2 separate regions of the Homo sapiens genome follow, and region 1 is linked to region 2. Evidence: fine-mapped QTL for protein levels in blood plasma. A gene starts in region 2. The other region holds a variant in brackets. All regions are shown on one strand. Distances are between the middles of the regions. Region 1 overlaps SKAP1 (src kinase associated phosphoprotein 1). Region 2 holds the start of SKAP1 (src kinase associated phosphoprotein 1).

Evidence for each region. A credible set is the group of variants that fine-mapping cannot tell apart. PIP is the chance, under the fine-mapping model, that this variant and not a neighbour inherited with it causes the effect. The UK Biobank Pharma Proteomics Project read protein levels with antibody pairs (Olink). The fine-mapping took linkage between variants from a reference panel, not from the people measured, so its PIPs are less certain.
Region 1: its variant is the best candidate, but not a certain one, in a credible set for the plasma level of the SKAP1 protein (UK Biobank, PIP 0.68).

The regions. Positions count from the first base shown.
Region 1 is chr17:48,261,890-48,270,232 of GRCh38, reverse strand. All of the region lies in intron 4 of SKAP1 (src kinase associated phosphoprotein 1), which reads left to right. Among named protein-coding and RNA genes, the nearest start is that of SKAP1-AS2, 28 kb to the left of the region's middle. The variant GCTTGCTTT/T (reference allele first, on the strand shown) is at 4,724.
Region 2 is chr17:48,425,330-48,433,660 of GRCh38, reverse strand. It overlaps SKAP1 (src kinase associated phosphoprotein 1), which reads left to right and starts at 3,447. Exons shown (of 13, transcript NM_003726.4): 1 at 3,447-3,586. The coding sequence starts at 3,541. RefSeq lists a silencer at 3,274-3,533.

The DNA of each region.
Region 1 (8,343 bases), 160 kb after region 2:
CAAATACTGAGATATTTTTGATGACTTTTATTTATTTATGTTTTCCATATCGTTTAAAATTTCACTATGTTTTTCATATTTTAGGACGCAGAAAATATAATAAAGTTGTTTTCTTTTTGTTGAGACAGAGTTTCGCTCTTGTTGCCCAGGCTGGAGTGCAGTGGTGCCATCTTGGCTCACTGCAACCTCCGCCTCCTGGTTCAAGCGATACTCCTGCCTCAGCCTCCTGAGTAGCTGGGATTACAGGCATGCGCCACCATGCCTGGCTAATCTTGTATTTTTAGTAGAGACAGGGTTTCTCCATGTTGGTCGGGCAGGTCGCGAACTCCCGACCTCAGGTGATACTCCCGACCTCAGGTGATCCTCCCGCCTCAGCCTCCCAAAGTGCTGGGATTACAAGCGTGAGCCACCGCACCCGGCCTCATTTTTTAATAATAAAAAATAAATTCTTTATTAAACTCACAAATCACTTACTTTCCATCCCCACTAGATAAAAGCTCTCTTTAACTTAGTGCAGCTTATCACAGCTAGATGTAGGAGGAAGCTAAGCTAATTAATTTTGTGCCAATTTGTGAGTGATTGTTATCTCCACTAACTATCCTTCAGAACATATTTGTGTTCTCAAAATATGAATGAATCTCTAAATGAAGGCATTTAAGGTGGAATAATGATGGAGCACAATAATTTGGGCGATGTGGGTTACATAATTTTGTACAAGAATATGACCTTATAGCAGGTTAACTCTGCCTGGAAATACAGGTCCCTCAGGGTCAGCTTCCTGAAGCTCTTCCCACTTATGCCACATTCTCTAGTCCTGGTGTAGACAGATAACAGTCTCTAGTGTATCTAGTGGACTAGTATAGATCTCTAGTCCTGGTGTAGACAGATAGTTGTTACACACAGAAGTTATTTTTTGTTTTTTTTTCTCAAAGTGGTCAAATTTATTTATTTACTTTTATCACTTCTAACTTAAAATGTCCTTTCTTCTCTAGAGTTTTGTTCAACATTCAGTTCTTTTCTGGTTTTTCTATAATTTGACTTCCGTATATTTACCTTTAATTCAGGTGGAATTTATTTTGATTAGTGTGAGACAAGAATCTAAATTGATCTTGTTCCAAATTACTATTCTCTTCAAAATCATTTATTCAATCACCCTCTTCTACTTGTGGTGCATTATTTATTATATATTAGTATATTACATCTAAAATGAGCTCTTTATCCTATTCTATTGATCTATTTTTGTACCAGTACTAGGACTTATGTAGCTCTAGAATGTTTTAAGTATCGTTAGTGTCAGTCATGACTTTTCTCTTTCAAAATTTCAAAATGCTATTTTCACCCCTTTATTTTTCCTGTAAATTTCAGAATTGTTTTATCAAGTAACTTAAAAATCTTACTGTGGTTTTAGTTTGTATAGCATTACGGTTAAAAATTAACTTGAGGCCGGGCACAGTGGCTCACACCTGCGATTCCAGCACTTTGGGAGGCTGAGGCGGGTAGATCATTTGAGATCAGGAGTTCAAGACCAGCCTGGCCAACATGGTGAGACCCCGTCTCTACTAAAAATACAAAAATTAGCTGGGTATGGTGGCACCTGCCTGTAATCCCAACTACTCTGGAGGCTGAGGTAGGCGAATCACTTGAACCCAGGAGGCGGAGGTTGCAGTGAACAGAGATCACGCCACTGCACTCCAGCCTGTGCAACAGAGTGAGACTGTCTCAAAAAAAACAAAAAAAAATTAACTTGAATCTCTCCACTTCGTACCAACTCATCCTTTTCAGTCTTCCAAGTATTTTCCGCAGCAGCTCTGTGTCAGATATGACAGCAATGAATACACATTATAGGTGGTAACTCAAGGGTTTGTAAGTCAGGATTGCCTGTACTCAAGTTTTAGAAAATTGTCATTTAGGACTTTTGACTAGTAAGCACAATATGTAACACAGGTGTGGGTTTTTTGTTTTTTTTTTAAGTAGTCTTTTGTCATGTTATTATTTCAGGTCAGTATTTGGAGGGTTAGCTACTGATTGTTTGGTTGCCCAGGACTGATATCCTTTGCATCTTCTTCTCATTTTTATAATTGGCTTATTATATTGCATGAGGCCTCTTCAAGTTTTCTTTCTTTTTTTTGAAACTCTAAAGAGTAATGTCTGTCTTTCGAGGATTTGATGAGATTCATTTTGTAAAGCATTCCAAACCTTACACTGGATTATTACATTAACTACCTTTATGATCTCAGAGAAGTCATTTAAGTTCTCTGATTTTAGCTTTTCTCATCTGTAAAATGGGCATAATACAAACACAAGATAATAATGTAAAGGTACCTATAAGCAACCTCTGTATAATCACATGAGAAATGGTGTGCCTTTCCATCTCTCCCTTCCCTCCATTTATCTGTTGGTATCTATTTTGTCAGGTCCTCCCCTGCTTTGGTTCTGTAATTACCCTTCCTAACGGAGTTCCTAAACATCTCCCATGGCTCAATACTTAAGAGCAAGTGGTGAAAAGAACAGAAATATAGTAAATAATTTTGTAAGCAATCTAGTATTAAATTAATTGATATTAAATTAATCACAAATCATTTTAATAGTAGCAAATTAAACTAAGCAAGTGTGTTTGCTCTTTTAAAAAAATGGGTTTAGAAAATTATCATTTTCTAAGTTATTAATGATTAATATAGGGCAATAATTTGGGTGTTGACCTTAAGGACTTGTGTATAGAGTATCTATTAGTACCAAGTGGTAATTTGAAGTATAAATGCTGATTGTATCACCTTAGAGCCAAAATCATTGATTAAACAGGCATATTCAACATTAAAGTGTGTGTGTGTGTTTAATTAAAATTGATTTTGGAAGAATTCTCCAACTACTGTTCCTTTTGTTCAACATTATTTTTTGATTGTGAGAACAAAGTAAAATTGAGGTATTGTTTAAGTTAAATCATGTATGTTGAGAAGTATCTAATTTTGTCTTTTTTTCTCTAAGGCCTAATAACTTATATATCTACTTCATGTCTTAATTTCACTTAAAGCTAAAAAAGGCTTACTAGTGTTCATAATTCAAAAGTTGGAAATTTATCAGAAGATCCTAAATGCTGTAGGAACATTCAGAGCCCTGAGTATAGGGAAAGATGTGGAAAACAAATTTGAGGAAAATAATTATTGGCTTGGCATCACATTTTTTTCATGATAAAATGATATTCTATGTGCTAATTCTGCCATCTGCTATGTTCTATGAGGGCTTTCCTTCAAGCAGTGAAAGCATTTCGTGTTGAGTGTTAGTCTAGTCACAGAAAGAAAGAAAATTCGTGTATATTTGGACATTTCCACTTCATTCACCCAATAATTCTCTCTAGTAATTGTAAAATAGAAATATCATTTTTAAATTTCAAAAAAGAGAAAAAGAGGAATAAGAAAAGGAAAACAGGGCCGGGCACGGTGGCTCATGCCTGTAATCCCAGCACTTTGGGAGGCCGAGGCTGGTGGATCACGAGGTCAAGAGATCGAGACCATCCTGGCCAACACAGTGAAACCCTGTCTCTACTAAAAATACAAAAAATTAGCCGGGCGTTGTGGCAGGCGCCTGTAGTCCCAGCTACTCGGGAGGCTGAGGCAGGAGAATGGCGTGAACCTGGGAGGCGGAGCTTACAGTGAGTCAAGATTGCGCCACTGCACTCCAGCCTGGGTGACAGAGTGAGACTCTGTCTCAAAAAAAAAAAAAAAGAAAGTAAGAAAAGAAAAAAAGAAAAGGAAAACAGAATTTCTAAAATTAAATTGCTTTCCAGCCACAGCCTTGATTTCTTGAACTAACGGTTTCAATAGTGTATTTATTGTTATGTATAGTATAATTCGTATTTTACAGGCAACAACTATCCATCTGTTCTGATAGGTGGAAACTGTCTTTAAATAATAAAGGAGCTCCTTTCTGACACAAATGCTCTCTACCTTTGAACTAGAAATATGCAGGATGATGTTTGCACCAGCCTAACAATTTACATTAAGATCTATTTGATATAGCTTATAAAATCTATTATTTTTGCCAAATACTTCAGTTGAATAGACTAGGCTAGTGTGTGTGTGTATGTGTGTGTGTGGGTGTGTGTAGGTGTGGGTGTGTGTTTAGATTATCTCGGAAATATTTCCAGCTCACTCACAGGTTAATAATCATACAGTGATGTCAGCCAAACCAAGTGCTGACAAGGAAATGAGAGCCCTGTTCAGGAGAGAATGAGTAAATATCCCAAGAGAGGAATCAAACAGCAAGCAGTCATTTTTCATAAAGAGAAAAATCACTAAACTAAAGAAAAGAGGTTTTAAAAATAAGTTAAGTTGAAAACTTGGACAACCTAAACAGACATGCAGATGTGAAGATTCTAACAGGGGAGGCATTTGGAGCATGGCCAGCTCCCTGTTCCACCTGCCACAGGAGTTTGCCTTTGGGCAGATACAGCTCCCAAAGGTGTTTTCTCCCTAGTTTCATGGGGGGAGGGAAAGAGAAAGGTTACAGTTCGGGTGTGTTAGACACACCTCTAGCCAGAGTGGTGTTCTGAGTTATTCACATTGTTGATGACAACAATACTAGAATAAAATAAAATGTGAAAACTGTGTGCTGATTTTTAAGTACCACGTCAATATGCTTAAAAAATAATTTGAGGTTTTGTGTGTCTTTTCTGAACACAGTAACCACACACCACAGTGTCATAGCTTGCTTGCTTGCTTGCTTGCTT[GCTTGCTTT/T]TTTTTTTTTTGAGACAGGCCCAGGCTGGAGTGCAGTGGTGCGGTCTCAGCTCACTGCAACCTCCGCCTCCCAGGTTCAAGTGATTCTCCTGCCTCAGCCTCCCAAGTAGCTGGGATTACAGGCATCTGCTACCATGCCGGGCTAATTTTTTGTATTTTGAGTAGAAATGGGGTTTCACCATGTTGGCCAGGCTGGTCTTGAACTCCTGACCTCGTGATCCGCCTCCCTCAGCCTCCCAAAGTGCTGGGATTACAGGTGTGAGCCACCGCACCCAGCCATAGCTTTCTTACTAATTAAAAATTCCCAGATTTAGAGCCTTTGGAGCTTCAGTATGAACTAACTTCCCAAATTAAAACTGGATTCAGGTACGTCTGTTAACAGATTGGAATTCATTAAATCCCACCACAGACAAATCCTATAAAAAGTGTATATTGTTTCAAATAGCTGGAAAGGAGAGCAGCCTTCCCCATCACTCACCAGAGCTGTGGCTCACCCCAGTAGAGTCATGTTTTTAGCAAGGTTCCTGTGGGAGACCTGTTTATGAAAGTGGCATTTGTGATTCAGACTTCAGCTCCCCATGCCAGCTTCGGAAAGTCAAACAGATGTTTCCTCGTTGACTGCAGCATAGCTCATCACTTATCCCAAGAGGAAAATCAGAAGAGGCTGGGGACAAGTACAGTTCTGTCAGCCACAACCACAAGAAAATGGAGATGGAGGGTGTGTGTGTGTGTGTGTGTGTGTGTGTGTGTGTGTGTTTTGTAGATTTGATTAAATGTAAGTTTAAGTATTGCTTTATTTAAAGATAGAATGATTCATCATCTATAGAAAATTTTATCCTCTACCTAAATTTCCTTTTCTACTCCCTTTTCCCTCCCCATTTCCTGGCAAAGTTCAGTATCTTTATGGGTCTCTTTGGAGTACAATCTTTGTGCTTTTCAGTTTTGCCTTGGATTAATAGGTTGTCTGAAAGCAAAGCTTAGCTCCTGATTTGTTTTATAAGAATAATAAGACCAAAGTTACTTTTCATTCACACATCAAAACACATGCATACCAAGAAAACAAATAAAATGTACATTGAATCTCATATACCACAGTAATGTGGCCTGGGAATTAAACTCATTAAATGGATTTCAAAGAACTGGGTAGTATGTAGTGGAAAACAATTTTGCAGTAAGCCTGAACTAACATTAGGTAGAACATAGTAAGACCTCTTTATTTCTGATCTCTGTGTGTGTGTATATATATATGTATAAACATATATATGTATACATTTTGTATATATATATAAAGTAGTGTTGCTGATTTTTAAGCTAGATATCAAATGCTTTAGAAAATACAAAAAATCAATTTTAACCATTTCCATGTTTTTGTTTTGGACATTTATTAGATATAATCTTGCCTAATTGTAGTCTAAAGTCAGATTTTTAAGTTAGATAAAAAAAAAAAAGCTGATGTCTCTTTGCTTGGATTGAATTCCTCTAGTCCTAGGCCCTAAAACAGTAGAAGGGTTGCGGCTGGTTTAGAAGTTTCTCTGCAAATGTACGTCTCTGTCTCTCCCTTTCAGACACTCTCGTTTGCTCTCCTTTCTTGCTCTGTGCAAACGCAGAGTGGTGTCTGTGTTTCAGGAAAAGAATGTGTGTTAAAAGAACTAATGGTCCGACTGTCCATCAGACTGGGCAGCAATGGAGGTCATCTGGCGGTCAAAACCAAATAATTTCAGCCTGTTCCTAAAGCCCCTGAAGCTGTTGACTCGATGACTGGAGTTCACCGCCTCTTGTTGCTTCTGTATCCTCTGAAACCTGGGACCTTTTTTTTGGAGACAAGAACGGACATATTTTCTCCATAGCAACTGTGTGCACAGTGCCCACCATTCAGCATTTGCTCAGGTTAGCTTGGCTAAAGTATACAGTCAGTGCTCCCTCTTGATACGTGTCTGCCCTGAATAGAAGATAGATCAGATTCTAAACCTAGAGGCCCCCAAAATATTGGAAGAGTCAGGATACTTGTGCATGTTTGAAGCTCATTGTTATACAGAAAATTTAAATATTTAAAAATAGAAAATATTTGTCTGCTTTTATAAAGAGACCCAATGTTCTTAATGCAAAACTTTCTACAGGCACATATTTTAAGGTGACTTCCAAGTTTCCACATTCATATGGAACAGATGGGAATGGAAGTAGTTTCAGTGTGCTGACAACTCCATTAAAAATGTTTTAAAATCCATAATCCATAAATCTGAACCACATATTGGTTATACTCATAGCCCTTTCAGTATTTCTTGTACCCTATTTGTGAATACCACCACCTGCTGGTAGTTAATGACAAGCTCTCACTTTGTTTACTGAAGAATCAACCTAAAAGTCAGTATTAAGTAAAATTTAAATGTTTTTAAGTAGGTACAATTTTGAGGTGAAAATCTATTTACTGTGTTAGTTTGAAACATCCTAACCACAATTAATTTGCAAAAACTTTTAAACAGACATTTGAAAAAAAATGCACATGAAATACTGTTTTGAAATGAAAGCTATTCTTAAATGATAACAATTTTTATTATCTTTTAGCTTCTTTTTCCTTGCTGACAACATTTCAAAGTAATGTTACAGATATCCACACCTTCAAGTCTGAGTTTCATCTCTTCTACTTCTTTTGTTTGCCTGCTTTCTAAAAGAAGTGTGTGTGTGCAATGAAATACCAAGGAGGAGGGACAGGAAAGCATGGAAAATCTACAAGCTGAATAATTAAGTGTTGACTTCTGAAGATTATGTCTGTGACTGAGGGATTTACCACTCTTACTTTGGCATTGGCTCATAAAACATATGTTCACAAAATCTGTTTTATGGGCTTTTTAACAGGATAAGAAATTTAAAATTTACAACAGAATAGGAAAATCAAATCTTCATGCAATGAGATTACAATATACATTGTTTATTTTAATTGTTCAAGTTTTTACTCATCAAACAGAAATATACTATAATACTTTACAATAAAATATAATGTCACATTGCCCAAAACAGTGAATGACAGAATTTTGTGGATTAAGGATATGGATTAAGGTAATCCAAAACTGCAGTTTATTAAACTTCCCCCCCAAAAAACCATGTGTTGTTCTTATTCTGAAGCTATGCTCTTGGAGTTTTCTGGCTTTCTTAAAAATGCATCCCAGTCCAATTTTAATATATGCCTTTTGGTGAGTCATTTTTATGATCTCTTTGCTATCTACTGAGACTCTTAAAATGTACTGGTTTGAGGCCGAACTTGGACTGTGATTCCTTCTTCTTAAATATGGTCTTCTAACCTCCTGACTGGGGGCCTCCTGCAGGTGGATGATTCTCTCCAACCCTCCAATGTAAGAGGCTCTGCCGCCTCAGGTAGGCCCTCCATCTTCTTTGTAGGCAGCCACACTACTAATATTTTTAGATGTTTGCAGCATTCATGTCTCAATATGTTCAGTATTTCAGGCAATTCGAAGTTGCAGACCCTTGGCAGCAAGAAACAAACCCTCACTGAAACTTTCTTTTACTTACATAGCCTGTGCTGAGTTTTATGTGTTATCTGGAGAAGAATGAAATTGATCCAACGCCTTTCCAAGAGGAAGAATGACTTCCAGAGAT
Region 2 (8,331 bases):
GAATTCCAGATTAATTTCATGGCCTCTGCTCCAAAGGACCTCTTATCTGTGAGGGCCTTGTATTTTAACCTTGTCATTCTTTTGTTGTTTGTCTTTAAGGGGCAGGCAGCTAAGAAGAGGATGCTAAGATCTTGCTGGAATTGGGTCTGGGGGGGACGGGAAGAAAAGGGAGGCAGACAGACCTGAGATTTGTGTATTCTGTTCTGTCCTCCTGCCTGTGTGCAGAGACAGCTGGCTGCTTTCTTCCATGACAGCCACATAGTACCCAGCCACACAGAACAGGACCCAGGCAGGGACTCAGCTACTGCCAACCTCTCCAGATTGCTTTGATATTTCTGACAGAACAGTAAAGGACTCGTGACTATCACGTTTTGCCTTGCCTCTCTTCACCTCCTCTAAGACTCCTCCATGTGGTTTCCATGGCTACCCCCAATCAGATTTGGCTTCCTGCGAAATTGGATTTCAAAAAAGGACAAGGCTTCAAAGGAATTTGTCCATTTAACAGAATGTCATTAGGAGTGGGGCTGACTGCTGAAACAGGGTCCTCAGATGATTAAGGAAGGGCTGCGTTCATGTGTGGAGGCAGATTTCTGTCTGCAATGAGGAACCTTGATGCAACATGACAATACCGTATTGGAATCTGCCAGTCACTCACTACATACTACCCGACTGTGCACCTCCCTCTACCCCTGTCTCTCTAAAACCCAGAGATTCTTGTAAGGAAGGATGCATATAGAATACGTACACTGTGAGTTTTTGGTGTAAGTAAGCTATGACAGGCAGTGAAGCCTGCAAAGAAGTGCAATTACCTGGGTTTACTGCTCTTTATCAAACAATTCATTAGCTGGTAGCTTATATTAGTATGTGACACCATATCCTTGAAGAAGAGGGGGAGGTTATCAAATTTTCTTCTGTTGCCAAGAAGGAAAGCAAGGCAAAGTTTAGGTTGACATATGGGGAGACTTTGCTGCCCTTGCTGTATTTTTTGTGTAACAGTTTAGATTTACCAAAAAAAAATTGAGATGATAGCACAGACAGTTCCCATGTATCTTTCCTTGCTTTTTAGTATGCCTCATAAGTACTTCAAAATGATTCTAGAGCAGCTACAATTTTATAGGTGAAGTGGTGAAGTTGGTAAAAATGCCATGGGGGTACCTGGTACTTGATCCCAAGCCTGAAAGGGGTAGTCTGCCCATTGCTATACTTTCTTTCTTTCTTTCTTTCTTTTTTTTGAGATGGAGTCTTGCCCTGTCACCCAGGCTAGAGTGCAATGGCCTGATCTCGGCTCACTGCAACCTCCGCCCCCCGGGTTCATGTGATTCTCCTGCCTCAGCCACCCGAGTAGCTGGGATTACAGGCGTGCACCACCATGCCCAGCTAATTTTTGTATTATTAGTAGAGACGGGGTTTCACTATATTGGTCAGGCTGACCTCAAACTCCTGACCTCGTGATCCGCCTGCCTTGGCCTCCCAAAGTGCTGGGATTATAGGCGTGAGCCACTGTGCCCAGCCACCCATTACTATACTTTCTCAGGGCAGGAAGGAGGATGAGCAGGAGCCAGATACCCCAGAGAGGCTCATGCCAGCCTCTGTCCCCTCACCCCAATTTACTGCAGCTTGTAGGTGGGTCATGTGACACTGAAACCAATGCACCACTGCTTTTCAGATGGCAGGATGCACTGTACTCCTTAAAGGATCACACCCTCATCTTTGAGGCTGTATCTCTGGATGGGAAACAGTACAAGGAGGCAGGCACTTTTATCACACTCATCCTTCTCGATGGTTTCTTCTTACTGCTCTTGCCCCGTCTGCTAGATTGAGTCCATCATTATTCCCCTTATGGCTGTTGTAAAAACCATTTTACCCACTTCCCCCTGTGTCTTTTCCCACCACTCCTAATCTTTTCTACATATTCTGTAGGTTGAGTCTGAGAATAGAAATGCCATTTTTTACAAAGAAGGAAAAAGGCAGAGGTGGAGATGTGTGAGGCCACATACCACCCCGGAGCTCTGGTTAGGTCATTCCCAATCTCAAAAATTGTCAATGGCTCCCCAGTGCCCTCTCAATTAAGTTCAACATTCCTATTCTGACTTTCAAGTCCCTTCACAGTAGAGCTGCAGTTTATCTTGACAACCATAGTCTTTCTACAACATCCAGTAAAAGAGGGCTACTAACTATTCCTCAAGCTGGTGAGGGCTCTTCCATCTTTCTTTACTCTGGTCCTTCCACCTGGAAAGTCCTCTGCCCCTTCAAAGTCTGGTGTGTTTTTCAGAGCCCATCTCAAACACCACATGCACCTTTAAACACTCACATGCACACTGGCACTTCTTTTTATTTTCTTTCTTTTTTAAGAGACAGGGTCTTGCTCTGTTGCCCAGGCTGGGGTACACTGGGGTGATCATAGTTGGCTGTAACCTCAGATTCCTGGGCTCAAGTGATCCTCCTGCTTCAGCCTCCCAAAGTGCTGTGATTACAGGTGTGAGCCACAATGCCTGGCCTCTTCCCTCCTTTTCTGGTATTCAGCTCCCTTCTTTTATCAACCATAGCACTTTATACTTTTTTCATGGCAGTTGACCTATTGTACTTAAAAAACCTCTTTATTTTGAGAATTATAGATTCACAGAGAGTTTCAGAAATAATAGAGGAACTCTGTCTACCTTTACCCAGTTTCCCCCAAGGGTAACATCTGGCACTATTACAGTACCATGTCACAACCAGGACACTGACACCAACTGTCCCTTGAATGAGACCGTGTGATTTTGTCCTTCACTTTCCTCCCTTCCGCAGCTCCTGGAGGGAAAGGGCTCTGTTCTCCTCTCCCTCAGCTTTCTCCCTGTGTTACCCCTTCCTTTCCTCAGGGCCTTTCCATCCTGAGGGAGAACAGCACAGTTTGGTTTCCTGTGTCCCTTGCTGCCACGCTGCCGCGATTCTCCCAAATGTTGGTGTCCTTATATTGCTTATTGGGAATTAATCATTTCCTTTCAACATTGTGGCTTCCCAAAGAGCGAAGTTTTGCCCTCTTTTCTGGGGATGGAGATGTGAACTGGACCGGCAATTGAGGGGTGCTATGCTTGACGGGGATCTCTTCCTTGGATTCTGCCTCCCTGCACCCTACTTCAGGCACCCCGTGGTCTTTCAAATCTGCCACCGTGAGGTCAACTGTTCGGTGCTTAGGATGGAGTGTCCAAAGCCGTGGGTCCTTTGAGCCTTGTGAAGTCTTTTGTTTTGGTGGGTGCTGGAGGGGCGCACCTTTGGCCTCGCACGGTGCGGTGCTTCCGGCACCCCCAATCCTTCTACCGTGGGGCTCCGGCGTGAGCGCCACGTGCACCCACGCCCCGCGCCCCGTTCCGGTCCCCGCCTGCCGCCCGCGCCACTTCCTGACGCGCCCGGGGACCCACGGCCCCGCCCCGCGGCCGGGCTGGGCGGGCGGCGACCGCGGCTGAGGTACAGGTGCCTCGCGGTGCAGCCGGGTCGCCTTCCAGCCCGTCCGCCTCCCGACCAGGGCCCGCGCCCCGTCCCGCCTCTCTCCCGCCCAGCCAAATGCAGGCCGCCGCCCTCCCTGAGGAGATCCGTTGGCTCCTGGAAGGTAACGCCCTGGCGCAGGCCCCCTCCAGTGCTGAGCCGAAGGCCGAAAGGGGACACCAGGCCTCCCACGGCCAGGCTTTCTTTACGGCTTCGTCACTCACCTCCTTCTAGAACCTTAAGGCTTCTAGAGCCCTCAACTCCCTAGAGCCAGCTTTCCATCCTCTCACCTCAGGGCCCCTTTCACTCCCTGGAGTCCCACATCTTCTTTTGCCTTGAGGCACCTCCACGCCTCCACTTCACCTCCCCGGCTTCTAAAGTCCTCAGGCCAGGTTCTTGGTCCCCCATGCCACCTTGCCTGGTCTCCGACCTGTCCCTTTCTCCAAAGGACTGCCCTACATCTGTAGGGTTTCCCGTCCCCCTCCTTCCCCAGCCACGACTTCCTCACCTCTCACAGAAGACCCCAAACCTTCCTGCTTAGAGGTCCCCGAGGCTCTCCAGGGGGCTGCGAGGGGCTCATGGGATCCCCATGGGCCAAGGCCAGGTGGTTGACGTGAGTTTTTGTCAGTGCGAAAACCCCAGCCCTCCCTTTATCACCCTGCAGACGTCTAGGGGTCTCACCCACCCCAAGGCAGGCTCATTCTCAGTATGGGATTTCCTCCTTTTCTAGAAGTGCCCCCATTGTGGTGTGTTCACCTTCCAACTCCCATTGTGGTGTGTTCACCTTCCAACTACAGTGTCTAAGCGGTGGTTTAAAGAGTTCCGGCCATCCCCGTCAACACTCAACACACACTGCCAACACTCCAAAGAGATGTCACAAAGAGACGTTGCTAACGGGCAGTTTCATCTGCTGGGTTTCGTGGTGGAAGTCACTTTTACTTGCTTTCCTGTAACTAACCTTCCAGGGAGGACAGAGGCCTGGAATCTGCAGTCGCATAAGGCTCCCAGGAGGAAACTATTCAGAATTAAGCCTTTTGGCATCTAAGTTGACATAGTTGACACATATTTAACAGACGGCCTGCTTTGGGCAGGTCATATTTTTGGCAAGCAGTATTTTTTTTCAGTTTCTCTCAATTTAATTGGTTTTATATCTCCATTACCTTGTTATCTCGGTATAAATGCCTCCTAATCAAATATTTGGCAAGTCCTTTTGGTCTCTGTCTGTAGCACTATTTCCATTCTGGATTGCTTCTATGTAAAAGCTGTCAGCTAGATATTTCTTTTGAGGTGAGGTTTCCAAAATCCGTTTTACTTACGATCAGAATAAATCTAAATTTTGGGGGTAGAAAACTATTTGCAGGGTAAAAGAGAATTATCTGGGTGTCTAAGAAGAAACAATCCAGCCTTTCCCTCTGTTGTTGGTTTAATATTAGGCTTGTGAAGGAAGGCTGTAATTGTCTTTGGTTTCTAGGAAAGAAGGGACTGTGGCAAAAAGTTTAACTCTGCCCTTGCATTGAAATATATAAACTGATTCTTTTTATTGGTATCTGTCATTTGATGAGAGGAAACCTATTTTATAAGCTTATTAAACTATACTTCAGTTTTGTGTCTAGGCTTGGTAGAAAATTCCTTTTTATTTTCAGAGGCTTGCAATGAAATCCATTCCTTCAGCATTTTTGATGTGCAGTTCTTCATTGTTCAAAACTGACACTTTGGTAAACAACTCATTTCTGCACCTGCCACCTTCCTTTAGCTTAGATTATTTTCTTGTTAGCTGACTGTTTTTAATTGAAGTCTTCAGATCTCCTTCTAAAGCAGAACCTTTGTTTGCTGACAAGTAGAGCGGGGTATGAATGGAGATTAATTGCATGTCGCATACTTCTGTATCAAGCTTGCTGTATCTTAACAATCTCTGTTGGTGCTCAGGTCTTTAAAATATATGGAGGAGTCTGAAACCAAATTATAAGGAGCTTCGTTGGTTAATGTATTTCTTTAAGGCTTTTTTTTTTAAGTTTGCAATTAGAACTTGAATCTGAAGTAGAGAAAAAAATGTAAAGTGTGATTCATCCAGTAATTCTATTGAAAAATGTTTGAAGATATGTTTTTTAAAGGTTCCTGTAATAATAATAGCAATATATTGGTTACAAGTTTTATTTCTTTTGGAACACAGTCGCTGGTGTAGACCAGGAGGATTATTCATTGTGTTACAAATAATCTGTCCATATTAGAAACCCAAAATGGCCATCAATTTGTTGTTTGTTGCTATTTGTCTCCCCCACCACACACTTTTTAAGGTTAACTGTTGACAATTAGAAAAAATGGAGGTCCTGATCTCTATATAGTCACTCTGTGGGAGGGAGTCACAGGATGTGAGGGCTGCAACTCTAGTGCTGCCACATGGCTGTGGGGGTGGGGTTTCCACAATGAATTACTACTTTCATAAACCAAGGCATAAGCATTTGCACAGTGATTTAACACTGGACATCACAGCCATAACTTAAGCATTTATTTATTTATAACTACACAAGCATAAATGACAGGGGCATTTTTTGACATAATGTGTGTGCTTTTAAGAATAAAATATGTAAAGCATTGTGAAAGGTAGATAACAAAATTTTGCATAATGAAGAGAACAGAAATTCCCAAGGCCTAAAATTAATTTTGTTTAAATATAAAATTTGAGACACTTGGAAATGTTTCACTCGACCTAGAAACCTCACTTCTAAAAATCTGTCACTGAAGTGAAAGGTCATGAAGTAGTATATGCACGAAGATCTATGCTAAATGTTAATAAGTTGGGAGACTCAGGGTGATGGTTGAATGAATTATGGGACATTTGTCTCATGGAATACTTCACAGCCACTAAAAGAGTATTCTGTGGATCTATATATAGGCTTGGAAAGTGTCCATGGCATATTTTTAAGACTAAAAGGCAAAATGCATGATAGTACATGTAATATCCCATTTTTGCTTGAAAACCAAAAGACAAAACAAGAAAAGCCACATATGTTATAAATATTTGTGTAAGCCTAGGAATAAGTAAAAAAGAATATATACCAGACTGTTAACATTGGCTTCCTTGAGAGAAGACTGAGAGTTTGGAGGAGGGGAGGTTATTAATTTTTATTTCATACATCTTTGTGTTGTTTGAATTGTGACAATGACCATGCATTACTTCTGTAAACAGGAAAAAATAAACAGTAAGGGTATTTAAAAGAAAAAGGAACAAAAGACAAATAGAAACTCAGAGAGGTCAGAGTGCTAACGGACCATTTACTATGCTTGTGATCATGTTTTTCTCTTTTTAGCCCTGAGGGGTATGGAAGGTGGAGAAATTAAAAAAAAAAAACACGCTATCTTGGATTTTTGGCAAATATCAAAACAGTGTGAGGTTTCTAGAGTAACTCAGGAAATAGCTTCTTTAGATAGACTCTGTCAAGCTCTCATATAGAAATAGTAACTAGTCCCCTATCAACAAATAAATACCTCATAGATAAGTAAAATGGAGGGTGCTTTCTGCTTTATTGAAAGAGGAGGAAATATTCAGGTCTGTTTTCAAATAATGGGGCTTCAGATGTAGAAGTTATCTTTTTGTTTTTGTTCTGTGATAACCACACCGAAAACAAAAACAATGAAGTGCTGGCAGTTTGCATAATCTTTGCTCCACAGATATAAACATAATCAGTCTCTTCTTCCTGGTCTTTCTAGCCCTGCTTTTGAAGTCAGAAGCAAAAGAGACAAGTATGAAGGAGGTGGAATAGATATTTCTTTGGTTCGTAGTTTGTCCTGTGTGATGGAATGGGGCCTACTGACATTACCCTGGTAGCTGATAGGTCCCAACTGCCTACATGGTACTAAATCCTGCCCAGAATATGGATTTAAGCCAAAATAACATTAACAACCTGGCTGCATGTAGTAGCAATTGCTGTGTTAATGCTGATTCTGATATGCCTATAGTTATTTATTTTTAAACTTCCTTGTAAAGAAGCAGTCATTAATCATTTCCTTCCAGATTGTTCTCCAGATCTGTATTAGTCAATGCAGTCAATCATAAAATCCGTTTCAGTATAGTAAAATTCCAACTGTGGGGAACTTGCAGAAATGAGTTGCTCTGGATAGCTGAGGAGATTCTCTTTAAGCACTCTTTTCTTCTTCTTATAAATATTTGTGATCAGGTTTTTCCTAAAATGCATTAGGAATTTTTCTTCTTTAGCCAACCAGTCTACGGCTATCTTCAAATGAACCTCTTTAGAGCACTCTTTAACTCAAAGTTGTTATAGTGAATATCTATTACCATACTTTATGGTAATATATTGTTTAGGATGTTTGGCCATAGTTGCCCCTGAACTGCTTTGTAAGTGTCTGTGTCTGCTTTATATTTTTATTTTCATTATTTTTTTCTTGCTGTTAGGCCAAGGCCTATCACTTTGCACCCTTGTCTGTGTGTCTACATTCCCAGTGCTTCTGGTACATCAGATAACCACGTTAGTTGGAATTGAGATATATGTAAAAGAAGTTACAAAGAGCTTTCTTGATGAACAAAGTACCCACACCTTTAAGTGTGGGCTTTGTAAGATGTATTTTGGCTGCTCAGAATCTTTTTTGCTTAATTTTTGAAACTGGATTGTCTTGCAGATCAGTGAGGCTACTGCTCAGTTGAATTCTGAAAAGTGAGATATAACTATAGTTCTATTCCTTTTTTATGTTAAAATTTTCTGATTATAAAAGTAATAATGCTAATTATAGAAAATTTAGAAAACACACAATAGGATACAGTTACTCAGAATCAATAATTGTTAAATTTCCATGTATTTTTCTCAGTGTTCATTATATGGATATACTTTAAAAGTTGGGACATATTTGTGCACA